Linked DNA regions of Homo sapiens: regions 1 and 2 are each linked to region 3. The links come from fine-mapping of genetic effects on gene expression. A gene starts in region 3. Each other region holds a variant in brackets. All regions are shown on one strand. Distances are from middle to middle. Region 1 holds the start of LINC02862 (long intergenic non-protein coding RNA 2862). Region 2 overlaps ATIC (5-aminoimidazole-4-carboxamide ribonucleotide formyltransferase/IMP cyclohydrolase). Region 3 holds the start of ATIC (5-aminoimidazole-4-carboxamide ribonucleotide formyltransferase/IMP cyclohydrolase).

Region 1 (8,187 bases), 36 kb before region 3:
ATCCAAATGTAAGTTCATGTTCTGAGAAACATATTTAATTCTCTCTTGTATAAAATCACCCAAGCTTATTTTCAAATACAAGCTAAAATGTTAATATTAAAAAGCAAACCATTGTTCTCTTCACAGAGTCCTCAAGTAGATAAGCCTTTATTTTTATGGCCATAATTTGATTTCTTGATAGGGAAAGAAGGAGAAAATTCTTCTGAAACTAATGTTATATTGGAACAAAATTTATTATCGATCCATATTCATTCTACTACCAGATATAATGAAAGTTTGGATAAGGTATTATTCTTTCTGGGGATTTTATGTATAGCAAAGTCAGTGTGAAGCCGACTATGTCATTGCTTGAGAGTCTGAACCTAATCGCCACTTAATTGATTCATGCTTGTAGCTGCACTGCTGCATAGCATCCCAGAGTGCTCAGATGCTACCTGTCAGGTGCATCCCATCACAATGCAAAGCAGCAGGTCTTGTGCCTGCCTTGATTTAAATGGAATGCTGGAGGAATGAAGCAGCCCAGGCAATCTGGAAGGCTGGTAGGGAAGAGGATCAGCTTCTGTTTCACCTCCCCATTGATAAAACTGACAGATCCCAGGCAGGCCTGAGGAGGTAAATTATGACCATAACATTAGCTAACTGTGGGGTAATATACACTGCTGGCCTATGGGGTCAGATCAAAGCTCCAGTCCTCCCTGTCCTTGACACCTAAGGAGAAGCAACATTAATTTCTGAGGATCTTTATTGGGCCACAGTGTTGAGGCAGAGCGTGGAACTTTTAATGTCATGGTAAGAAAAGGAGGCAGAAGCTTATTCTCTAACTATGCTCTCCAGTTGGATTAGGGATTTTAGAGACTCTGTCATTTTGGACTTGTCTTATTAAAATGATGTCTCCGCCAGCTGCCGCTCTAGCAATTAAGACAGGCCTGCTTTCCACCTAGTAATGAACTCCTCCAACGGCCTTTTCTCACCAACCACCCACACCCCACTTCCTATTGCCACAGGAAGGCCTGGCCTGGGGTAGAGTGTCTAGGTTTTGGGCGTAGGGAACCATCCCACCTATATTCTATTTTTCTTTGGATTTCTCTCTCTCTCTTTTTTTTTTTTTTTTTTTTTTGCCACTAGAGTGAGATCTGGAGGAACTTCATTTAGGCCTCTGACAAAAGACACATAGGAATGTTTTCAGCCCTATGTAGTCCAGCACAATTCGCCAGGTCTAGGAATTCCAAAAAGGATTTTGGCACCAAACCCAAACAGTAATAAACAGTGTGCACAGGCCAGGCCTCACCATCAAGGCATGGATTGTGTCTCTTATGGGGAATCTAGTAGACATGGTTGTGACTGTAAGTGGTTTTTTAGGGATTTGGTGATCTTGAGTCCCGGCCTAATATCAACTCAGAAATGACTGGCATATACCCTTGGAACAGTGTAGAACTGGGGGAAAGATAATAGGCAAAATGAAGATGGAGACATCTTGTATGAATCACCATCTCATGGCGTGGAACTATCAACTTGGCTTTTCCAAATACATGATGTTCCTGAAACCTCTGAATTACATCTCTGAATATTTGGATATTTAAGCTATTTTGATGCCTTGCTTACATTTAAGCTACCTTCCAAAGCAAATTCTATCCATCCTAATTGCTTTCAAACCAATCTTGCCTTAAAAATATTCCTACAAATCAACTGGTGTTGAATATTGATATAAGTAAATACTCTCCTTTAGACTAGAAAACCAGCATGTTTCATCACCAAATTTTTAAAAAGCAATTAATCTTCTCTTACCCATATTGAATAAGAATTCACTTTAGAATTTCCTTCTCATGAGGCAGAGCTTGACATTTAACAATTCTCATGTTTCATTTTCAGAAGTAAATGAGTATGCTGCAGTTAACCTGAGAGTTGATTCATAGTTAGGAATACAGGGAGTAACGTGGGGGAAATACCTCCTTTCTTTAGCTCAGGGGAACACACTGAGTGCCTGTAAAGTTACCCACAGTGCTATCCATATCGACTAGATTGTAGTCAAGTAAGGGCATACGATCAAGGTGCCATCAGGACCTAAGCAATATTCATGATCTCTGACAATATGGATCATGCACTGAAATTCTACAATTGTCCTTAGAGAAAATCAAAAGTTTATAGCACCACTTTTACCATAGAACATTTTTTCTTTTGGAATGGGGACAAAAAAAAAAAAGAAAAAAAAAGATTCATGGAAAGGATTTGGTCTCTGAATGCAGGTGAACCTGAATTTGAATCCTAGTGTTTGTAAGCCCTGACTATGTAATTTTGCTCATGGCCTGGTGCCTAGCAGGTGCTCAACAAGTCTTTGTTTTCTCTGAAACAGATCTGTATTTGTATCCTATTTTTTTTTTTTTTTTGAGGTGGAGTCTCACTCTGTTGCCCAGGCTGGAGTGCAATGGCATGGTCTTGGCTCATTGCAACCTCTGCCTGCCTGGTTCAAGGGATTCTCCTGCCTCAGCCCCCCAAGTAGCTGGGATTACAGGTGTCCGCCACCACTCCTGGCTTTTTTTTAATTTTATACTTAGTAGAAACAGGGTTTTACCATGTTGGCCGGGCTGGTCTCGAACTCGTGACCTCAGGTGATCTGCCTGCCTCGGTCTCCCAAAGTGCTGGGATTACAGGTGTGAGCCACCGCACCTGGCCTATATTCAGCTCCTATTGTGGCTGTAACAAATTACCAAAAGCTTCAAGGCTTAAAACAACACAGATTTATTACATTTCTGAAGGTCAGAAGTCCTTCAGCGTCTTGAGCAAGGCTGTGTTTCCTCTGGGCACTCCAGAGGAGAATGTTTCCTTGCCACGGCATGGCCCCACTACTATAGCATTTTGGACGCTATAAAAAGAAAAATCTCCTAGGCCAAATTGCCTCTACATTTCATTGTAGACACAATTAACTAAATTTATTCTTCTACAGCAGTGATTTTCAAACTTTTTGGTCTCGAAACCCCTTTATACTCTTAAAAAATATTACAGACTCCGAACGGCTGTAGTTTACGCAGGCTCTATCTGTCAATATTTATCATATTTGAAATTAAGATTGGTATTACAAGAATACACGAAGAGCACAGAAGCACACATTCCATTAAGCATCGGAACAATGATATCATTACACGTTATGGAGCCACTGTAAACCCCATTCATGAAAGAATGGGAGTGAAAAAAGCAAATAACATTAGTACTACTATGAAAAGATCTTTTACCTTGCAGACCTCCTGAAATGGTTGTAGGAGTCTCTGGGCCACATTTTAAGAACTGTTGTTCAGCTGGTGTGAAAGAAGGCGCAACAGCTAAAGAAATGCCAATTCTAAATCTCTCAAAGCAATCATCATGCTGACTATGCCCAGAACAGCACAGCAGCCAGTGTGGCCTTCTGCTGATAGGAAAGACCGAGCAGTCTGACTCTATCCTTTCCCTAAAGACTCTGGCTGTGGGCAGCCTCCATTCCCTGTGGTGTTGGAATCAACCAATGAGGAGGGGAGAAAACGCTTAGAAATAGTTTGAACAATAATAGAGTCAGCAGTTATAGTTGGTTCTAACATATTTTTAAAACTGCATTGTTATGATTCTGATGATCATACACAGTGCGGGAACTACTAGCTATTTCACCTATATATGAGTAAAACATTTGGGGAAATTTCCCTCTGGTTCAGCTGGTTATGCTGTTCACGGAGGTCCTTGACATTTGCCCAGCGGAGTCATCACCTGAAACCACGGGCAGCTGAACCCTGGGAACTTGCCTCGGTGTTTATAAATACCTCAGTTGCATCAGGACCCTACAGGTGAAAGATCTTGATACCACACAGGTATAATTACAATCTGCAAACCTACTCAAGGGGAGTTGCAGGTGAAGATAAGGAAGTCAGCCTCATTCCATTACCTAATCAGATTCTCAGCCAAAGACAAACAGCAACATATGGGACTTTAAGGTGAGCAGGGAGCCGACAGCAGCGCTACTCAAAATGTGGTCCGTGATCTGCATGGCTCTCAGAATTGTTTGTTATTGGTTCATGGCAAGTAAAGCACAGAAAATGAGAGTAAGGATTTAAAACATTTGGAAAAGTTTGACAATAGTTGTGTATCTGTTGAAACTAATCATTTATAAATGTGTTTCTATTTTGCATGACTTTTTCATTTTCCATTGTTTTGCTTCTTCAGTTTTATCAAAGTATTGGTCTGTAACAAATTGTGTGTGTTTTGTTGGGGACTGATCCATCAGTAATTTGTCAAGCACTGATCTAGAGGTTAAGGCCCTTTGGTCTGTTGGTTGAAATGTAATAACTAATTTTTTTAGACAAAAGAACTGATTTTACCTGGATATGATCTTTCTTAAAGTTTATTTCAAGTTTGATTAATCTCAATGAAACTCTGAAGTCTAAATTTAATGTCAAGATTTAGATTTGGGCCGGGAGTGGTGGCTCACGTCTGTAATCCCAGTACTT[A/T]GGGAGGCTGAGGCGGGTGGATCATTTGAGGTCAGGAGTTCGAGACCAGCCTGGCCAACATGGTGAAATCCCATCATCCATCAAAAATACAAAAAATTAACCGAGCATGGTGACACACACCTGTAATCCCAGCTACTCAGGAGGCTGAGGCGGGAGAATTGCTCCAACCCAGGAGATGGCAGTTCCAGTGAGCCAAGATCGCACCAATGCATTCCAGCTTGGGAGACAGAGACTCTGTCCCCTGTCAAAATATGTATACACACACACACACACACACACACACACACGCACACACATATACATATATATACATATTTAACTGGGCATGGTGGTATACACTCGTAGTCCCAGCTACTCAGAAGGTTGAAGTGGGAGGATTGCTTAATACTGGAAGTTTGAAGCCGCAGTAAGCTATGATTGAGCTACTGCACTCCAGCATGGGTGACAGAGCAAGACCCTGTCTCAAAAAAAAAAAAAAAGCACATTTAGGTTTGACAATTTCAGGGCTAAATAACAAATTAATTAGCAGTTATTATGTTCATCAGACATAAGGCTATTTAATATCATTTCTTTTGCCTGATTGAAGGTTTCCAGGCTTTCAGGAAGCAGTACTATTTAATCAAATACCAATGGCATACTTGTGTCATGCAATGTTACGTTCCATAGGCAATAATAAAAATGCTATCAAGGAAAAAGTCAAGAGAAGTGGCTGTGGTCTAGATAAATGAAATACAATGTAATTAAGAATATGGATCAGAAAACTTAATTTTAAAAAAGCAATTTTCTTCTTTAGGTTTGTCCTATCTTTACAGTTGTATGTAAATTTTTAACATCCAGTACAGATCTCATAGTGTTATTATCGAAGCTCACAGTTGAAAGTGCTTGTTTACAAGTGTTTATCTTGCCAAACAGATAAACATTAAGGTGCCCTGTAATGGGTTTTTGTTTTGAGTTCATCCACTGATTTGTAAAATTCTGAGTGAGTAGATCCCCTGTGTAAAAGGCTTTTAAATTTGCAAGCACAGGAGTTCAATCAATTCCAATTGTTGGAGTGGGACCAACATCCTTAGGTGAAAGAAAACATTACTTGATAACTCCTTTTATCTTTTTTAAGCTGAGAAAAGCGGCAGTCTCATTCAAGTGCCAACTTCCCAATGAGAAACACACACTTTCTACTTTATCTCCAACATAAGGCAGAAAGAATAAGAGAATTCAGCAAGCAAGAGAATATTACTTTGTATGTATCTGAGTATCTGATAGCCATCATGTCAGAAACAGATCGCATATTGAAGGTTTTGCACTTCATGGATACAGCAGTTATTAAATGGACTTATTTCTCTAATCATAAAAACCAAGTCTTTATATTTCCTCCCTCATATTATAAGTATTAAAAATTTCTGTTATCTTTTCCCTGATTATAAAAGTAATACATGTTCATTACAGAAATATGTAATAAGAAAGCAAAATCATTCATAATCATACCACATTTAAATAAAGCAATCCTAATATTTGTATATACTATTTCCCATTTTTTCTATGGGTATTCATATATGGTTATATTTCTTTTCTTTTTTTATTTTTTTTTGAGACGGAGTCTCACTGTGTTGCCCAGGCTGGAGTGCAGTGGTGCAATCTCAGCTCACTGCAAGCTCCGCCTCCTGGGTTCACACCATTCTCCTGCCTCAGCCTCCCGAGTAGCTGGGACTACAGGTGCCTGCCACCACGCCTGGCTAATTTTTTGTATTTTTAGTAGAGATGGGTTTTCACCATGTTAGCCAGGATGGTCTCGATCTCCTGACCTCGTGATCCACCTGCCTTGGCCTCCCAAAGTGCTGGGATTACAGGCATAAGCCACCGCACCCAGCTCATAAATGTTTATATTTCTACATAGCTGAGATAATAATGTATGCATTAGTGTGAATCTTATTTTTTTGTTTGTTTGCTTTTGAGACAGGGTCTTGCTCTGTCACCCAGGCTGGAGTTCACTGGCATGATCATGGCTCACTGCAGCCTCCATCTCCTGGACTCAGGTGATCCTCCCACCTCACCCTCTGGAATAGCTGGGACTTCAGGCATGTACCACTACGCCCAGCTAATTTTTTTTATTTTTTGTAGAGACGGAGCTTCACCATGTTGCCCAGGCTGGTCTTGAACATCTGGACTCAAGTTATCTGTCACCTTGGCCTCCCAAAGTGCTGGGATTACAGGCATGAGCCACAGCACCTTGCTTATTCTTTTGTTTGCTATTAAAATATAAGCATTTTCTAGTCAATAAAAATTAACCAAGAACATAATTTGCAATGGCTGCATAATATTCTGTTATATTGAAGTTATAATAGATGTGAGGAGTTTCCTATTGCTGAATATTTACTTTTTCTAGAGGTTAAGAAGAGCTTTTAGAGTCAGAAAGACTTGACTTGTTGACTCTAAAGTCCTGGCTGGTGGTGGGTGCAGTGACTCACGCCCATAATCTCAACACTTTGGGAGGCCGAGGTGGGTGGATCACTTGAGGTCAGGAGTTTCCGACAAGCCTGGTCAACAGGGTGAAACCCTGTCTCTGCTAAAAATATAAAAATTCTGGGTGTGGTAGTGCATGCCTGTAGTCCTAGCTACTTGGGAGGCTGAGGTATGATAATTGCTTGAACCCAGGAGGTGGAGGTTGCAGTGAGGCAAGATTGCACCACTGCACTCCAGCCTGGGAGACAGAACGAGTCTTTGCCTTAAAAAAAAAAAAAAAAAAAAAAAATATATATATATATATATATATATACACACACACATACATAAAGTCCTGGGCCAGGCGCGGTGGTGGCTCATGCCTGTAATCCCAGTACTTTGGGAGGCCGAGGCAGGTGGGTCACTTGAGGTCGGGGTTTGAAACCAGCCTGACCAACATGGTGAAATCCTGTCTCTACTAAAAAAAAAAAAAAAAAAAAAAAAATTAGCTGGGCATGGTGGCATGTGTCTGTAATCCCAGTTACTCTGGAGGCTGAGGCAGGAGAATCGCTTGAACCTAGGAGGCAGAGGTTGCAGTGAGCAGAGATTGTGCCACTGCACTCCAGTCTGGGCCACAGAGCAAGACCCTGTCTCAAACAAACAAACAAAAGAAAAAAAGTCCTGGCTGGCTCTGCCACTTATTAGCTATGTGACTTTAGTCAAGTTACGTACTCTCTCTAAAGTGCAATTTTCTCATCTGTAAAAATTGGGATTATTATACAAGCTACTTCATAGGGTGGTTGTGATAGTAAATAAAGATTATGCATATAAAACAGTGCATCACAGTGTCTGACTTTTCTCAGTAAATGTTAATTATTTTGATACTGTGATAAATATCTTAGCTCATACAGCTTTGGTCTAGTTTTATGAAATTATTTAATTTAGAAAATGCCAAGAAGACTTGAAATAAACATAGAGATCTATATTTTAAAGATTATTTTTCAGCTTTCAATTTGACCAAGAGAATAACGACTGTTAGATTCCTGTAAGCAAACTATTAGGTTGCTGCAAAAGTAATTGCGGTTTTTGACCTTGAAAGTTATGGCACAAACCGCAATTACTTTTGCACCAACATAATAAGACAGCATGGAAAAGTTTGGATTTAAATGATGGAAGAACAAAAGCATTTTATGAATGTCTACTTCACTTGGAATTATTCATATTCCTCAGATGTGTTAAAAATTGAAAGATGAGGCCAGCGTGGGAGGCTAACGCCTGTAATCCC
Region 2 (8,187 bases), 24 kb after region 3:
GGTCTTTAAAAACTATCTTAACCCATGAAGGACATGAAATTACACATTTTTGTTTTTTGGGTTTTTTTTTTTTTTTTTTGAGACGGAGTCTCGCTCTTGTTGGCCAGGCTGGAGTGCAGTGGCGCGGTTTCGGCTCACTACAACCTCCACCTTCCAGGTTCAAGCGATTCTCCTGCCTCAGCCTCCCTAGTAGCTGGGATTACATGCGCCCGCCACCACACCCAGCTAATTTTTGTGTTTTTAGTAGAGACGGGGGTTTCACCATGTTGACCAGGCTGATCTCGAACTCCTGACCTTGTGATCCACCCACCTCGGCCTCCCAAAGTGCTGGGGTCATGGGGGTGAGCCATTGTACCCGGCTCATTTTTGTTTTTAATTAGTGCTGGCCCACCATTTCTTTCTGTGTGCTGAACTTCTTATGTTTATTCACAAGAGATACTAGCTCCTAAAAAAATCTGCCAGTGTTGAGAAACTAGGTAATGGAAAACTCTGAAGTTGCAGTCTCCTTTTAACTACAGTTCTGCTTTAGGCAGAGTCTGTTGAGTTTGCCATCAAAGAAGAAAGAAAAAACACATTATTTCTTCTCTTCTTCCACCCACAGCTGTTGCTTTAGCTTGTAATATAATTTCTTACATCGATAGGGTTTATAACTTTAATTTTGTACTGTCTCTGTGATTACCTCAATTGTTTAATCTTAGTTCTGTATTTACATGAATTCCTGACTGATCACTAGTCTTGTCATAGTTTCTCCCATCCCTAAATCTCTTATTGTGGATTTATTTCTAGACTGGCTGGTTCTGGTCCTCCAGTCGTGTGTGTGTGTGTGTGTGTGTGTGTGTGTGTGTGTGTGTGTGTTCATGTACATGTGCATTTTTTTTAAAGATGGGCTCAGGCTCAGTTGCTTTGTTCTTTATCATCAAGATTTTATGTTTGTGTGTATCTGTTTGGCTCTTAATTATACTTAAAACATTTGTTTAGTCATGTTATTTTTTTGAGAAGTGTGCATACATCTGACCTTACTGATCCTGCTTAGTAATGTGCATGTATATTTTTACATTTAGTTCTAAATGGAGCCCCTGGATTTATAAACTTGTGCGATGCTTTGAACGCCTGGCAGCTGGTGAAGGAACTCAAGGAGGCTTTAGGTATTCCAGCCGCTGCCTCTTTCAAACATGTCAGCCCAGCAGGTAAAGCTCTGTGCTCTGGAAAGCTCCAGAATTGTTCGAAAGGCATTTCTTCTTAAATTTTTTTGAATATTAACAAGTTCTAATGTGAATATAGACATGCTATGAAATCTGAAAGTCATCTGTTGATAACAGTATCAATGTAATAATATAAAATCTGATACACACACACACACAGAATTGTGTAATATTGTCAGGAAAATGAGGCAGGAATTTGTTTGTGGGGTGGAACCATAAAAGTTTAGAAAATAAAAGTGAAATGTCCTAATGCAATAGACTAAGTCTTGTGCCACATCTTTGAAAATGTAATGGAGTAAACATAAAGAAGTTCTTCTTTGGACTCTTTATCTGAAACTTCTTATAGTCGTTGTATGAGATACTTTGCTTCTGTGTTTAAATCATGAACTCCGCAATTGAGTTGTCTGTACACCACATCTTGCTGACAGTCCTCCAGCACATGATTTGTTCTCAGGTGTTTATTGGGTGTTAAAGTGATGTGAGTGGGGAAGAAATAAATGATGTGTGATATCAAAGTGATATCAAGCAGAACAGAGAGAAAGAGTGAGTCAGTAATGAAGTAAACGAGCTTCACCTACACGCTGGGTACTGTCAGGCTTCAGTGGCTCTGTGGTTTTGGAGGGCAGAGAGGAGATTTCCCTCACACTGCTCCCACAACCATATTTTTAGTGTATAATTATCTGGCTAAATAGATTTCTGTTTAATTTAGCACAGGCACTAGAAAATGTGCTGCGTAGACTGGGTGTTAAGAAAACTGTCTTGATTTAGGAGTTGACAGGTAGTAACTTTAGCTTTCTTTGTTTATGATTTTACTATTTTCTAACCAGGTGCTGCTGTTGGAATTCCACTCAGTGAAGATGAGGCCAAAGTCTGCATGGTTTATGATCTCTATAAAACCCTCACACCCATCTCAGCGGCATATGCAAGAGCAAGAGGTCAGACTCATAGGGCTTTTTGATTTGGGGGAGAAAGAAAAAGCAATATTTTATCCTAAATAGAATAAAGAGGATAGAATAAAGAAAAAATATATAGATATTCTGTATAATATATAGATGAAATTAAGGACTTCTATCTCTATGTAAATATACAGTTATTCTATATAATATAGTTTGATTAAAGTAAAATACCCTTTGTTTCATTATAGGATTTCCTATTTAATTTGTTTTATTAATATTTGAGATTGATTCTGTGAGTACCTCAAAATACATTTCTTTATAAAAGTGTATGTTAGTATTTTAGGCCGGGCGCAATGTCTCACGCCTGTAGTACCAGGACTTTGGGAGGCTGAGGCGGGCAGATCACGAGGTCAGGAGATCGAGACCATCCTGGCTAACACGGTGAAACCCCGTCTCTACTAAAAATACAAAAAATTAGCTGGGCGTGGTGGGGGGTACCTGTAGTCCCAGGTACTCAGGAGGCTGAGGCAGGAGAATGGTGTGAACCCGGCAGGTGGAACTTGCAGTGAGCCAAGATAGCGCCAGTGCACTCCAGCCTGGGTGACAGAGCGATACTCCGTCTCAAAAAAAAAAAAGTATTTGTTAGTATTTTAGTGTAATAAATGGAAACACAATTGGAATTTGGTCAATGTAATTTTGCTAATTTAGGCTATTGAATGCATTTGTTATTGTTTAATATGTGACCAAAATTGAAATTACAAAAAGCTATTCTTTTTTTTTTTTTTTTTTTTTTGAGACAGCTTCTTGCTCTGTTGCCCAGGCTGGAGTGCAGTGGCGCCATCTCAGCTCACTGCAACCTCCACCTCCTGGGTTCAAGCGATTCTCCTGCCTCAGCGTCCTGAGTAGCTGGGATTACAGGTGCGTGCCACCACACCTGGCTAATTTTTTTGTATTTTTAGTAGAGACATGGTTTCACCATGTTGGCCAGGCTGGTCTTGAGCTCCTGACCTCAAGTGATTCACCTGCCTCAGCCTCCCAGAGGGCTGGGATTACAGGCGTGATTTATGGCTCTTCTAACTTTACTACATTTGGTTAGAGTCATGTTTTATCAGAGACATTTACTTGTTGAATTTAATAACCCATGAATATCCCTTTAGTATTTCTGAAAGTTCTTGAGAAACTATTACCATAGTTTATCATCTACAGCAGTGGTCAGCAACTTCAGCTGAATCCAGCCTGCCACCCTGTTTTTGTGAATATAGTATATATAAATTGGTCCTTCACAGAAAAAGTTTTCTGAGTGTCACTCTAGAGGGTAAAATTAAAGAATACTTTCTTACTGGTTACTTCAGTTAAATGACTTATTGATCTGTTAAAATCTTATGTAAACAGTAAGATTAGCTTTAGAG[T/A]AATGAATTTTATATGACAGTGGAGAATTTTATTACTTTTTCTGTATCAGGATACTTTGTGATAAATACCTCATTTTAATTTTATTTACAGGGGCTGATAGGATGTCTTCATTTGGTGATTTTGTTGCATTGTCCGATGTTTGTGATGTACCAACTGCAAAAATTATTTCCAGAGAAGTTAGTGGACATTCATGTATCTTAATCTGTGTGTTGAATAAAGCTTTATTTGTTCATAATGTTAATTGAAACCATAACCTATAATATTTATATTTATAATATCTTTTAATTAGCTAAGTTTATCATTTAATGTTCATATTTTAAATAGAACATTAATCTTAAATTGTTAATTTTGAAATGTAGTGAATTATTGTTTCAGATGGATATTTGGCTGTTATGATGTTTTTTACTTATATATTTATTTTAAATTCTTTGTTGTCTTCATGCCAAAGTTACTGTTTCTGAAGAGCAGAAGTTGTAATTTTAGGTGGTGATGCGATATAATCCATCTTACTGCATAGTGGGTAAAAAACAGAAACTACATTAATAAACTTACCCCATCAGTTGAATACCAAACAGGTATTCCAGACAGGTGGGGGTACTGTTGGTAGTAGGAAGACAGGAAGAAAAGAGAAAAAGATTAAATAGCTCAGAAAGGGGAAAAAAATAAGCAGAGGTGAAGGCTGAAGGAGCATGTGGCTTGGCACTATTTTGTTGCTTTAGGATTCTTTCCATGGCCACTGCCATCCCTGGGTTACAGGTTACAGGAGGGCTGTGACATTTGTATCTTTCGTCATGTCAAATCTCTGATTTAATCTGGTCTTGCTGTTAAGGAAAACGCCTTGCCGGAAGAGGTCATTTAACCATGTACTAGGAGAGTCAGGACTAGAATGTGCTCTTGCTCATTCAAAACACTCCCTGAAGAAATATTTCCTCCTGAGGTACATGTGTTAAGAGCAAATCAGTCATATTTTCTTAGTTTAAACTGAAACGAACAAAAACTTGGAGAGGACAGAAAGTTAGGATCTGCTATACAGAAAGCTGTATTCTAATAGATTTCTCTTTTCAAGTATAGCGTTAGCATTGTTTGTTGGAGGCAGAAACCAGAATATGCTGCCACATTATTTAAGACTGATAATTGCTGCTAGATTTTTTTAAGAGGTGTTCTCTGATTTTTAAAAATAGAAATTAAAATTTAATATTTTTGCAGGTATCTGATGGTATAATTGCCCCAGGATATGAAGAAGAAGCCTTGACAATACTTTCCAAAAAGAAAAATGGAAACTATTGTGTCCTTCAGGTGAGTGCAATTCATGTTTGAAGCGGTAATTTGCTCTTTTATTCTGTGTCTCTTTCTCCCTTGTTTACTCTTTCCTTTATACTCATACCCTTCTAGTTTATCCTTATTATAGTTTATTTTCCCCAATCCTGCATTTAAAAAAATACTATTAACTTGGGGTTTTGAGATGAGAGTAGCTTTCTTACCCTCAATTTTAACTTTTTGCTGGTTGTGATGGCTCATGCCTATAATTTCAGCCACTTGAGAGGCTGATGTGGGAGGATGGCTTGAGGCCAAGAATTGGAGGCTGTATTGTGGTACTATGATGCCTGTGAATAACGACTGCACTCCAGCCTTGGCAGTGTAGTAAGACCATGTCTCTAAAATACTAATAATAGTAACAATATTTAATGGAAAGTCTCTCCATCCTTCTGTTACCTTTTGAAAAGATAACTATTTTAAATTTCTTGCTTATCTTTCCTGAAATAGTCTATGTATTCAGCAAATATTTGCATGTGCATTTCTTTTTCTATTTTCCTATTGACACAAGTGCACCCTGCTTCACCTTCTTGGAAGTTTGTCCTGTATCTGTGTATTTTAACTTACCTAGACAGTCACCAATCTTTAGCTACTACAAATACCCCTGCAGTGAATAACCTAGAAAAGTCCTGAGAGTGAAATTAAGGCTTAATAACAAGCTCTATGTATATTGGTAATCTTAATTGATACTGCCCCTTTTAGATGTTGTAGGCAAATTCATTGTCCTAACTGAAATATATAAGGATGCCTGTTTCCCAACACTTTTGTCAGCATTGTGGTTTTATACTTTTAAAAAGTCTCTGCAGTTAGAAAATGGCATCTCAATGTAGTTTTAACATTGTGTGTGGTATGAGCATCTTTTCATGTTTGAATGTTTTTATTCCTTTCTATGAACTGTCTTTCCATATTCTTTGATGATTTTTCTACTAAGTTGTTGTTGGCTTTTTTTTTTTTTTTAACTGATTTTTATGAGCTCTTCTGTATTGGGAAAAGTAGCTCATGGTCTAAGATTATGCATTGATAAAGCAAAGAGTTATTTCAATTTAAAGTAAAAATTCCTAATGCTACTTTTCATAGTATTGATATCAGAACTCTGTGGAATCCTAATTCCTTACAAGGAAAGTTATTAAGTATATTCTTTTGATTGTAAGATACCAATAATTTTATAGTTCACCATAGATTCCATGTCAGCTATTTAAGGAAAGAAGAGAATACCACATTAAAGTTAATACTTATTTTTTTTTAGCCACTTGACAGTCTGTTGCCCAGGCTAGAGTGCAGTGGTGTGATCTTGGCTCACTGCAACCTCTGCCTCCTGAGTTCAAGCGATTTTCCTGCCTCACCCTCCCAAGTACCTGGGACTACAGGCATGTACTACCAGGCCTGGCTGAGTTTTGTATTTTTAGTAGAGACAGGGTTTCACCATGTTGGCCAGGCTGGTCTCAAACTCCTGACCTCAAGGGATCTGCCCGCCTCGGCCTCCCAAAGTGTTGGGATTACAGGCGTGAGCCACCGCGCCTGGCCCCCAGTTTCTTAATCAAGTTTTTTTTTTGTTGTTGTTGTTAAGAGTGTTATGTACTTAACAACCATTAGCATTTTCTTGTAGCATCATGGAAAATATTTTCCAAAACCTGAGTCATTTTCTTGATCTCTTTAACACCTGATAGTTGGAGAGTGTCAAAGGAATATCAGGACTTCATTGGTATTTTACTTATTTGAGAATTTGGCTTAGTTTGCACATTGGACGCATGATTATAAGCATGAGACAACTTATCCCTCTACCTGACTAATGATAAGTTTCTCCTAGCATCAGTTAATAGGAGAGCATATCAATTTTAGAAATTTTATAGTGCATAATACAAAGGAACATTTTAGAATTCAAGAAAATGTAGATTAAACAGAACTAATATTTACGGGGTCTTGCTTATAAATTATATGTCAGGGCTTTCTAAATCAAAGATCATCCAAAGCATAAAGAAGAAATAGTGTCAAGTTTAAAAAAATATCCAGGGAGAGAGTAGTGTTACACGTATTGTTCCACACACCTTAATGTTCTTTCGGCTCAAAATTTGGGAGAGGAAGATGGCAGTAAATGATACAAATTCCTTCCAAATAGCAAAGACACAGATTACAAATCCTGTTTTCTCACTTTTAGCTTTCAATTCCTGGGTTAGCTGGGTATTTTGTAACAGATTTTTAGAAAGGAAAATTAGAATTTAATTTTTGTGCCATTGCTTATTTAATTAGCACATCTGTTTTATCTGCTGACCTTCCAAAAGAACCATATAGGTAGTAACTTAACCAAAAATACACTCACTGGAATCATTGTTTTTTAACATGTTGTATATAGGTTGTAAAATCTATAAAATACTATTGGGTAGTAAAATCTATAAAAGACTTTGGAGAAAAATATTAGCGCCTGGCTGTTGTATCATACCAGAATGTTGAATTGTATCATACCAGAATGATTTAACACATCATTTGTTGTGTGAGAAAAATTAGAAAATTAGAAAACTGTAAAAAATTAGAAACATGCATATAACTTTACTTACAATGAAATCTTTTGTATATAAATTAAATGAAAAATTTGAGGGAAGTGGAGAGATTAACTTTAACTTTTAAAATTTGTATTTTAGATGGACCAATCTTACAAACCAGATGAAAATGAAGTTCGAACTCTCTTTGGTCTTCATTTAAGCCAGAAGAGAAATAATGGTGTCGTCGACAAGTCATTATTTAGCAATGTTGTTACCAAAAATAAAGATGTAAGTTGGGAAGTATCTGAACTGACTGCTAGTAACTTCCATTGGTCTGTTTTCAATACTTAATGAGCTTTACATTTATTAAGGTCTGGATTTGGAACTGGTCTGTATGCACACGGCTAGCTAGCTTATCTTTGAGTTGTCACATAAGCTTTGGAGTTTAAGAAATGAATCAAAGGCCATGTTAGAAGCTTCTGTGCATATGTACACACTAGAGATAAGTAGCTTTAATTGTGTATAAATGGGATCATGTCTTCCATAATCTGACTCCTGTAACTTGGCTTTTTTCCATGTGCTAGGCTACAAATGTGTTTTTATATCAATACATATAGATGCTGGGTGCAGTAGCTGACATTTGTAATCCCAACACTTTGGTAGGCCAAGGGGCAGCTCTCTTGAGGTCAGGAGTTTAAGACCAGCCTGACCATGTAGTGAAACCTTGTCTCTAGAAAAAGTACAAAAATTAGCCTGGCGTGGTAGCTGCGCCTGTAGGTCCAGCTACTCGAGAGGCTGAGGTGAGAGGATTGCATGAGTCTGGGAGATCAAGGCTGCAGTGAGCCGTGTTTGTGCCACTGCACTCCTCTCTGGGTGACAGAACAAGAT
Region 3 (8,187 bases):
CAGGAGGCGGAGCTTGCAGTGAGCCAAGATTGCTTCACTGCACTCCAGCCTGGGTGACAGAGTGAGAGCGAGACTCCGTCTCAAAAAAAAAAAAAAAAAAAGTGATGAATTTACACAAGAAACAAACAACATAGGGGCAAAATCAGATTATAACACCTTCAAAGAACTGAAACAATTCATGTACATTAAATATTTTAAGGTATATTACTATGATTTTAGGGTCTTCAAGCTTCTCTTTGGAGGTATGTGAAGTAAGAAGAAATGAAAATGTAATCATTATAGTGTATACACGCCCTTTCTGTCTTTCTGAAACAATAATCCTGCGATAAACCATTGGTAAAAGATGCATTCTCATCTTTATGAGAACATCTCCCTTTTCTAAGACACTAGCTTGCTGGTGACTAGATCTTTGAAGACATACCTTGGTGCCCAGAAAGATACCTGATTAGCCAGACCAAGGGAACCAAGAAGATTACACCTCTATTTTACTCTTCTTAGTCTCTTTGCAGTTTGTACTTTCAGTAGACTACCTGTACTTAATTCGCTTCTTAAAATATGATGAGGACTGCAGAAAAAATATTATGTCCATATTACAGGTAAAGCAACAAAGGTCCCCAAAAGATGGAGTGACTTGGCCAGGATCACAAAGCTAGTAAAAAATTCATTTACTCTTTTTGTCATTAACATATTAAGTCCTATCAAGTCGGGATGCTAAAACTATGGGAGAATTAATCAGAGTAAATATCTTTATTTTTATTTTTTGAGACAGAGTCTCGCTCTATAGTGCAGGCTTGAGTGCAGTGGCACTATCTTGGCTCACTGCAACCTCTACCTCCTGGTTCAAGCGATTCTCCCACCTCAGCCTTTCGAGTAGCTGGGATTACAGGCACCGCCACCATGCCTGGCTAATTTTTTGTATTTTTTTAGTAGAGACGGTGTTTCACTATGTTGTCTAGGCTGGTCTTGAACTCCTGAGCTCAGGCAATCCACCCGCCTTGACCTCCCAAAGTGTTAGGATTACAGACGTGAGCCACTGTACCCAACTTACTTTTTGTATTTTTAGTAGAGACGGGGTTTCACCTGTTGGCCAGGCTGGTCTCAAACTCCTAACCTCAAGTGATCCACCTGCTTCAGCTTGCCCAAGTGCTGGGATTACAGACGTGAGCCACCACTCCTAGCCTGTTATTTTTTTATTTTATTTTATTTAAGAGACAGGGTCTTGCTCTGTAGCCCAGGCCGAAATGCAGCCGTGCAACCTTAGCTCACTGTAACCTCGAACTCCCACCTCAGCCTCTCAAGTAGTTAGGACTGCAGGCATGCACTATGTTGCCCAGGTGGGTCTCAAACTCCTGGCCTCAAGTGATTCTCCTACCTCTGCCTCCCAAAGCACTGGGATTACAGGCATGAGACACTACACCAGGCCCCAGAGTAAACATCTGTAAATGGAAGAGTCTGTAATGAAAGAGGCTCTACAAAATCAGTTTAATGCCGTGTTTTCTCTATTATTATTATTTATTTATTTAATTTTTTCTTCTTTTTTTTTTTTTTTTGAGATGGAGTCTCGCTGTCGCCCAGACTGGAGTGCAGTGGCCCGATCTCGGCTTACTGCAGGCTCCGCCCCCCGGGGTTCATGCCATTCTCCTGCCTCAGCCTCCCAAATAGCTGGGACTACAGGCGCCCGCCACCTCACCTGGCTAATTTTTTGTATTTTTAGTAGAGATGGGGTTTCATTGTGTTAACCAGGATGGTCTCGATCTCTTGACCTCGTGATCTGCCCGCCTTGGCCTCCCAAAGTGCTGGGATTACAGGCGTGAGCCACCGCGCCCAGCCTATTTATTTAATTTTTTGAGACACAGAGTCTCGCTCTGTCGCCCAGGTTGGAGTGCAGTGGCGCAATCTCGGTCACCGCAAGCTCCGCCTCCCGGGTTCACACCATTCTCCTGCCTCAGCCTCCCGAGTAGCTGGGACCACAGGCGCCCACCACCACGCCCGGCTAATTTTTTGTATTTTTAGTACAGACAGGGTTTCACTGTGTTAGCCAGGATGGTCATGATCTCCTGACCTCGTGATCCGCCCGCCTCCACCTCCCAAAGTGCTGGGATTACAAGTGTGAGCCACCGCACCCGGCCTCTATTAATATTTTTTAGTTATACTTCATGTGTCTACATTTTCATTCCATCATGAGCTCCTTGAGGACAGTGCTTAGGTGATATTTATCTGTCTTCTGACACTGAGTTTCTGCCATCCAAGCAGAAAAGGCTCAATAAAAATGTATTGAATCGAATAAATATTTGTAATTCACATGACAGACAAATGCATAATGCCGAAGCAACTGTTTATTTCCCCTTATCAATAAATGTCAGCATTGTTTTCTCCTTTCCTTGCTTTCGATTTCCTGTAAAAACCTGATGGTGACTGGCCAAGGAAATATCCTTTTTAAATTCAAATTTGGCAAACACACTGAAGACATGCGATAATCTTAATATATTCCTCGTAGGAATGTGAGAAGTGTTCAGAGCAAAGGGCTAACATATTTAGAGGTCAAAAAATTGATTCCAGGCTGGACGCGGTGGCTCACGCCTGCAATCCCAGCCCTTTGGGAGGCCAAGGCAGGTGGATCACCTGAGGTCAGGAGTTCGAGACCAGCGTGGCCAACATGGCGAAACCCCATCTCTACTAAAAATACAAAAATTAGCCAGGCATGGTGGCACGCGCCTGTAGTGCCAGATACTCGGGAGGCTGAGGCAGGAGAATCGCTTGAACCTGGGAGGCAGAGGTTGCAGTGAGCCGAGATCGCGCTACTGCACTCCAGTGTGGGTGACAGAGCGAGAGTGTGGGTGACAGAGCGAGACTCTGTCTCAAAAAAAAAAAAAAAAATTGATTCTAGTCAATAGGTATTTATTTTGGGGAGTAAAGAGATGGGAAGAATTAGAGAAAGGAAGAGGAAAAACAAAAATAAATAGCATGCAGATAATGAGAAAATAGACTCATTTTTACAGCTGTGAGCTCAGACTAAAAGATAAACAATGCTATTACTTTGGAATATAATTCTAATAACACAAAAAAGACTCATAGACCACAATATGTATTTATTTTGTGGCAAAGGTGTCATTTTTAGAAAGAAACAAATGTGTTCAATTTTGCTTTCCCTGTTTTTAATGAATTAAGAAAGGTCTTCTCTTACCTTCTTTTGACTGTCATCATTCCTCTCATCCAGGAATATTTACAGGTTTGCAAGAAGACACCATCTTTAAGTAGTTTTTAGGCACTTTTACAATACTGACTAAATTGTATAAAATAGTATTATAAATTAATATTTAAATTATAATTTTATGACGTGAAAATCAACAACGAATGTCAATTTCACTTCGTTTTGACTGTCATCTGTGGCCTCTGGAGTCCCTCACTTAAATCATTGGTCCTTGGTTTTATTTTTTAAGCCTATTAAAAAGGAGGATGGGGCCGGGCACGGTGGCTCACACCTGTAATCCCAGCACTTTGGGAGGCTGAGGTGGACAGATCATTTGAGGTCAGGAGTTGAAGACCGGCCTGGCCAACACCGTGAAACCCCATCTCTACTAAATATACAAAAAAAAAAAAAAAAAAGTACAACAACAACAAAAAATTAGACGGGTGTGGAGGCAGAGGCAGGAGAATTTCTTGAACCTGGGAGGCAGAGGTTGCAGTGAGCTGAGATGGTGCCACTGCTCTCCAGTCTGGGAGACAGAGCGAGACCCTGTCTCAAAACAAACAAGCAAACAAGCAAGCAAGCAAACAAACAAAAAACAAGTTGGGCATGGTGGCTCACCCCTGTAATCCCAGCACTTTGGGAAGCCGAGGCAGGCGGATCACCTGAGGTCAGGAGTTTGAGACCAGCTTGGCCAACATGGCGAAACCCCATGTCTACTAAAAATACAAAAATTAGCCGGGCATCGTGGCGCCTGCCTATAATTCCAGCTACTCGGGAGGCTGAGGCAGGATAAACTCTTGAACCCGGGATGTGGAGGTTGCAGGTTGCACGTGACATAGCCGAGATCGCGCCATTGCACTCCAGCCTGGGCAACAAAAGCGAAACTCCATCTCAAAAAAAAAAAAAAAAAACAAAAAAAACAAAAAAACCCAGAAAAACAAAAAAACAACAAACAAAAAGGGAGGATGGTAGATAACTGTCCAGATACTTTCCAGCTTTGCCGCTATATGAACTATTCCTTTTGTTTAGTTTTCAGCATGGGAGCTTCTGGCACTTTTACGTACTTTCCAGCTTCTGGGGACCGGCTGCCTAGAATAACAGGCATTTGCCCCAGAGGCCGTGGAGTGGCCTCACTTTGGGGTCGTGGGCAGATCGCTGGCTCCCACGCCTGGACTTCGGGATCGCAGGCAGGATCCCTTCCAGCCCAAGCACTCCGCCCAGGCGCGCCAGGCAGAGCCCCACCCCATCCCGCCGTTCCCTTCAGCCCCGGGGCGCGGATCTTGCATCTGAAACTGAGCAGAGCAGGGCGCCGGGCAGGGCCGGCGGGCCACGTGATAAGCCCGGAAACAGCTCCGCCCCCTCGCTTCCTGAGCCGCCACATCCCGGCAGCCCTCCTACCTGCGCACGTGGTGCCGCCGCTGCTGCCTCCCGCTCGCCCTGAACCCAGTGCCTGCAGCCATGGCTCCCGGCCAGCTCGGTGAGGCCCTAGCGGAGCGGCGCGGTCTGCGTCCTCGCCTGCGGCCCCCCACGCTCCCGCCTTGGCGGCGGCCGGCGGGACCCGGCACTGCAGGGGCGGCGCTGCGGGATTGAAAGCCAGCGTCCCCGCTCCCCGGCCGGGCCGCAGCCTGCGTGGGGCCCGCCTTAGAGCAGCTCGCGGGTGTAAGACCTGGGGAGGCCCGGACCAGGCCTGCGAACGCAGGGTCCAGGTGCTGGCCTTGCGATTCGAGAATCTCCTCCCCCAGACCCTCCCAAGGCCTTGCAGAACACAGTGCAATGTGCTGCGAATCATGAGAAAAAATGTCTTCTCTTTCAGCCTTATTTAGTGTCTCTGACAAAACCGGCCTTGTGGAATTTGCAAGAAACCTGACCGCTCTTGGTTTGAATCTGGTCGCTTCCGGAGGGACTGCAAAAGCTCTCAGGGATGCTGGTCTGGCAGTCAGGTAAGGCATAGCTAGTTCCATCAGAAAGGAGTGTGATCACATTAACCAGGAAGTATTGTATTCCAGGCACCAGCAGCAAAACGCCTTATTTACTCCTCCCAGTAGCGCTGTGAGGTTGGTGTAATACTTCCCCACTTTATGGGGAAAAAAAGTGAGGCTCAGAGAGATTTAGCAACTTTTAAGACCCTGGACGGCTGGGCTAGGTGGCTCACGCATGTAATCCCAGCACTTTGGGAGGCCGAGGTGGGCTGATCACTTACGGTCAAGAGTTCGAGACCAGCCTGGCCAACATGGTGAAACCCGTCTCTACTAAAAATACAAAAATTAGCCGGTATGGTGGCACACGCCTGTAATCCCAGCTACTGGGAAGGCTGAGGCAGGAGAATCGCTTGAACCTAGGAGGCGGAGGTTGTGGTGAGCCGAGATGGCACTACTGCACTCCATCCTGGGTGACAGAGAAAGACCCTGGACAACACACTGGACAGATTTAGCATCTTCTGCACAAGTTTAAACAGTTGAGTAAGGGAAAAGTAGGATTGGAACCCGTGCTGTTCCTGATTTTAGGACACTAGTCTTAGCCCCTTCCTTAAACAGATTAACTTAGGTGGGCCACTTGTTATGCAAGGAAAACTTCAGTTACTTTGACTGGTGATTTAATAAAACTCGACATCATGAAGATTCCAATTTACCTGCCTTCCCTTAGAATCTCTGGTAACCATATGAAGGTGCAAATCATTCATTCCCACGTTCACAAGCCCTTCATTAGCTGACTAGGCCATGGAAAGAAGGGACTTAGAAATGATTAACCAGGATGCCATTGCTGATGTCAAGGAGTGGCATTCTGGGAGGAGAGGGAGGAAGTCTACTGAAAGGTAGAAAAATGAAAAAAACTATAGGATAGCTATTTAATAAACGGCAGTGAGAGTTGGGAGGAACGAGATGACCACCCCTGAAACATATTTTAGAATGAAAGAGATGAAGGATATCTGTCTGCTTTTTGTTGCCATGTGGAAAATTTGCTTCTTGGTTTCTAGATCCATGTAGAGGTAGGTTATTACCTTTTCTTTGTGCAGTTCCCAGCTATGTGAGCAGTACACAGCTTCCCTAAGTTTAACAAGTTCAGATGGTAAGAATGCCTTACTTTATTAACAAATACATAACTGTATATTTTCGGATGTCTTTTTGCGTCTTGTCTCTGTGGTTTTCATGGGAAACCTGTGAGAATCGTGGCAGGCAAGTTGGCTCTTTGCTCATCAGCAACCGAATGAGAATTCAAAGTCCAGACCTGCGTGCTTTCCATTGGGCCAAGTTGGGTCCTCCTATGGTAATGGAACCTTCGTAAAGCAAAATCCTCATCTGTAGTCTCTTTTTTTTCCCCACCAAACTTTGTATTATGGAAACATTTCAGACACAATCAAAAGTAGAAAAGTATAATGATCCCTTGGGTCCTATATCTGTCACCCACTTTAGGTACTTATCAACTGATTAGTCTTGTTTCTGTACCTATACCCACTCCTCACTTATCTTCATTATGGTCATATCTTCTTTAAAAACTGGAAATGTAAATGTGTTTCTCTTCTATGAAAGGATAAGAAGTTCACCATGAGTGATTTATTTAGACCCCAGCACAGTAAAGTTCACTGAATGAAATGTAAACAACTTGGAGCAATTGTTTTTTCTTCAACAAAGGCCACATTCAGTTGCAGTGGTATTTTATTCAGTTGCAGTGGTATTTTACATATATAAACTCTTATAGTCCTTATAACAACTTTTTAGTTTAGGTAGTGTTATCCTCATTTTATAGGTGAGGAAATTAAGCACAACGTAGTTAAGTAACTCGCTCGAGATTACACAGCTAGTTAAGAGGCCAAGATTTTTTTTTTTTTTCTCTGAGATAGAGTTTCACTCTTGTTGCTCAGGCTGGAGTGCAATGGCACTGTCTCAGCTCACTGCAACCTCTGCCTCCCAGGTTCAAACGATTCTCCTGCCTCAGCCTCCCAAGTAGCTAGGATTACAGGCGCCCGCCACCACGCCTGGCTAATTTTTTTGTATTTTTGGTAGAGACAGAGTTTCACCATGTTGGCCAGGCTGATCTCGAACTCCTGACCTCAAGTGATCGCCCGCCTTGGCCTGCTGGGATTACAGGTGTGAGCCACCGCACCCGAGGCCAAGATTTTGTAGGGGTGGAAAGGTGTGATCCTTTGCTCTCCATCGTAAACGTCACGGCCAATATTTTTATAAGAGAAGACAGGTTATAATAAGAGAAAAGCATAACAAATTTATTTAACAAAGTTTTACATGACATGAGAGCCTTCAGAATGAAGACCCAAAGACAGAGGAAAAACCATCCATTTTTATGTTTAGGTTCAACAAAGAATGGACAGAAAGGTGGAAGTATGATTGGACAGCAAGGATATGGTGTATGCTAGTAGACTGAGGTGGAGAAAGCCAGGAAAGCCTGTCTGTCCAGATTCTTCTTGGCTTCTCTAAAATTCTTTCTCCACCCCCTAAGGATCTCCTGACCTACTAATGGGCAAGGAGATGAGAGGATTTCTTTACGTCCAGCTCCTAGACAGAAAGCCAGTGGAAAGTTAGAATCATAAGTTTAAATCTTATGACTGGCTTTGGGGAAAAAGAGTTTTAGTTTCTGTAAACTGCCCTGGGGAAGAGAAATTCTCATTTCTGTGACTTCAGGGAAGAATGAAGGGTGAGAGGCAAGAGGGCAGGAGAAAGCTATATATATATATTTTTTTAGAGGGTTTTACTCTGTCACCCAGGCTGGAGTGCAGTGGCACAATCATGGCTAATTGCAGCCTCGATCTCCCAGGCTGAGGCAATCCTTCCACCTCAGCCTCCTGAGTATCTGGGACTACAGCTGCACACCAGCATGCCCAACTAATTTTTGTATTTTTCATAGAGATGGTTTCACCATGTTGTCTGTCTGGTCTTGAACTCTAGGGCTTAAGCAATTTTGCCTGCCTTGGCCTCCCAAAGTGCTGGGATTACAAGTGTGATCCACCATGCCTGGACAAGGTCTTGGTTCTGGCTGGGCGCAGT

The links. PIP is the estimated chance that this variant, and not a neighbour inherited with it, causes the effect.
Region 1: its variant is fine-mapped to the expression of ATIC in whole blood (TOPMed, PIP 0.96).
Region 2: its variant is fine-mapped to the expression of ATIC in amygdala (GTEx, PIP 0.91).

What each region holds. Positions count from the first base shown.
Region 1 is chr2:215,271,188-215,279,374 of GRCh38, forward strand. LINC02862 (long intergenic non-protein coding RNA 2862) reads left to right here and starts at 3,803. Exons shown (of 3, transcript NR_174956.1): 1 at 3,803-3,953; 2 at 6,421-6,496; 3 at 6,582-6,760. RefSeq lists an enhancer at 178-726. The variant A/T (reference allele first, on the strand shown) is at 4,467.
Region 2 is chr2:215,331,321-215,339,507 of GRCh38, forward strand. ATIC (5-aminoimidazole-4-carboxamide ribonucleotide formyltransferase/IMP cyclohydrolase) reads left to right here. Exons shown (of 16, transcript NM_004044.7): 8 at 1,062-1,187; 9 at 2,030-2,137; 10 at 3,599-3,684; 11 at 4,715-4,804; 12 at 7,459-7,587. Among named protein-coding and RNA genes, the nearest start is that of ATIC, 23 kb to the left of the region's middle. The variant T/A (reference allele first, on the strand shown) is at 3,508.
Region 3 is chr2:215,307,495-215,315,681 of GRCh38, forward strand. ATIC (5-aminoimidazole-4-carboxamide ribonucleotide formyltransferase/IMP cyclohydrolase) reads left to right here and starts at 4,565. Exons shown (of 16, transcript NM_004044.7): 1 at 4,565-4,667; 2 at 5,004-5,130. The coding sequence starts at 4,649. It overlaps LOC124907975 (a long non-coding RNA gene), which reads right to left and starts at 4,478. Exons shown (of 2, transcript XR_007088075.1): 1 at 3,185-4,478. RefSeq lists an enhancer at 4,269-4,919 and silencers at 4,450-4,529, 4,540-4,909.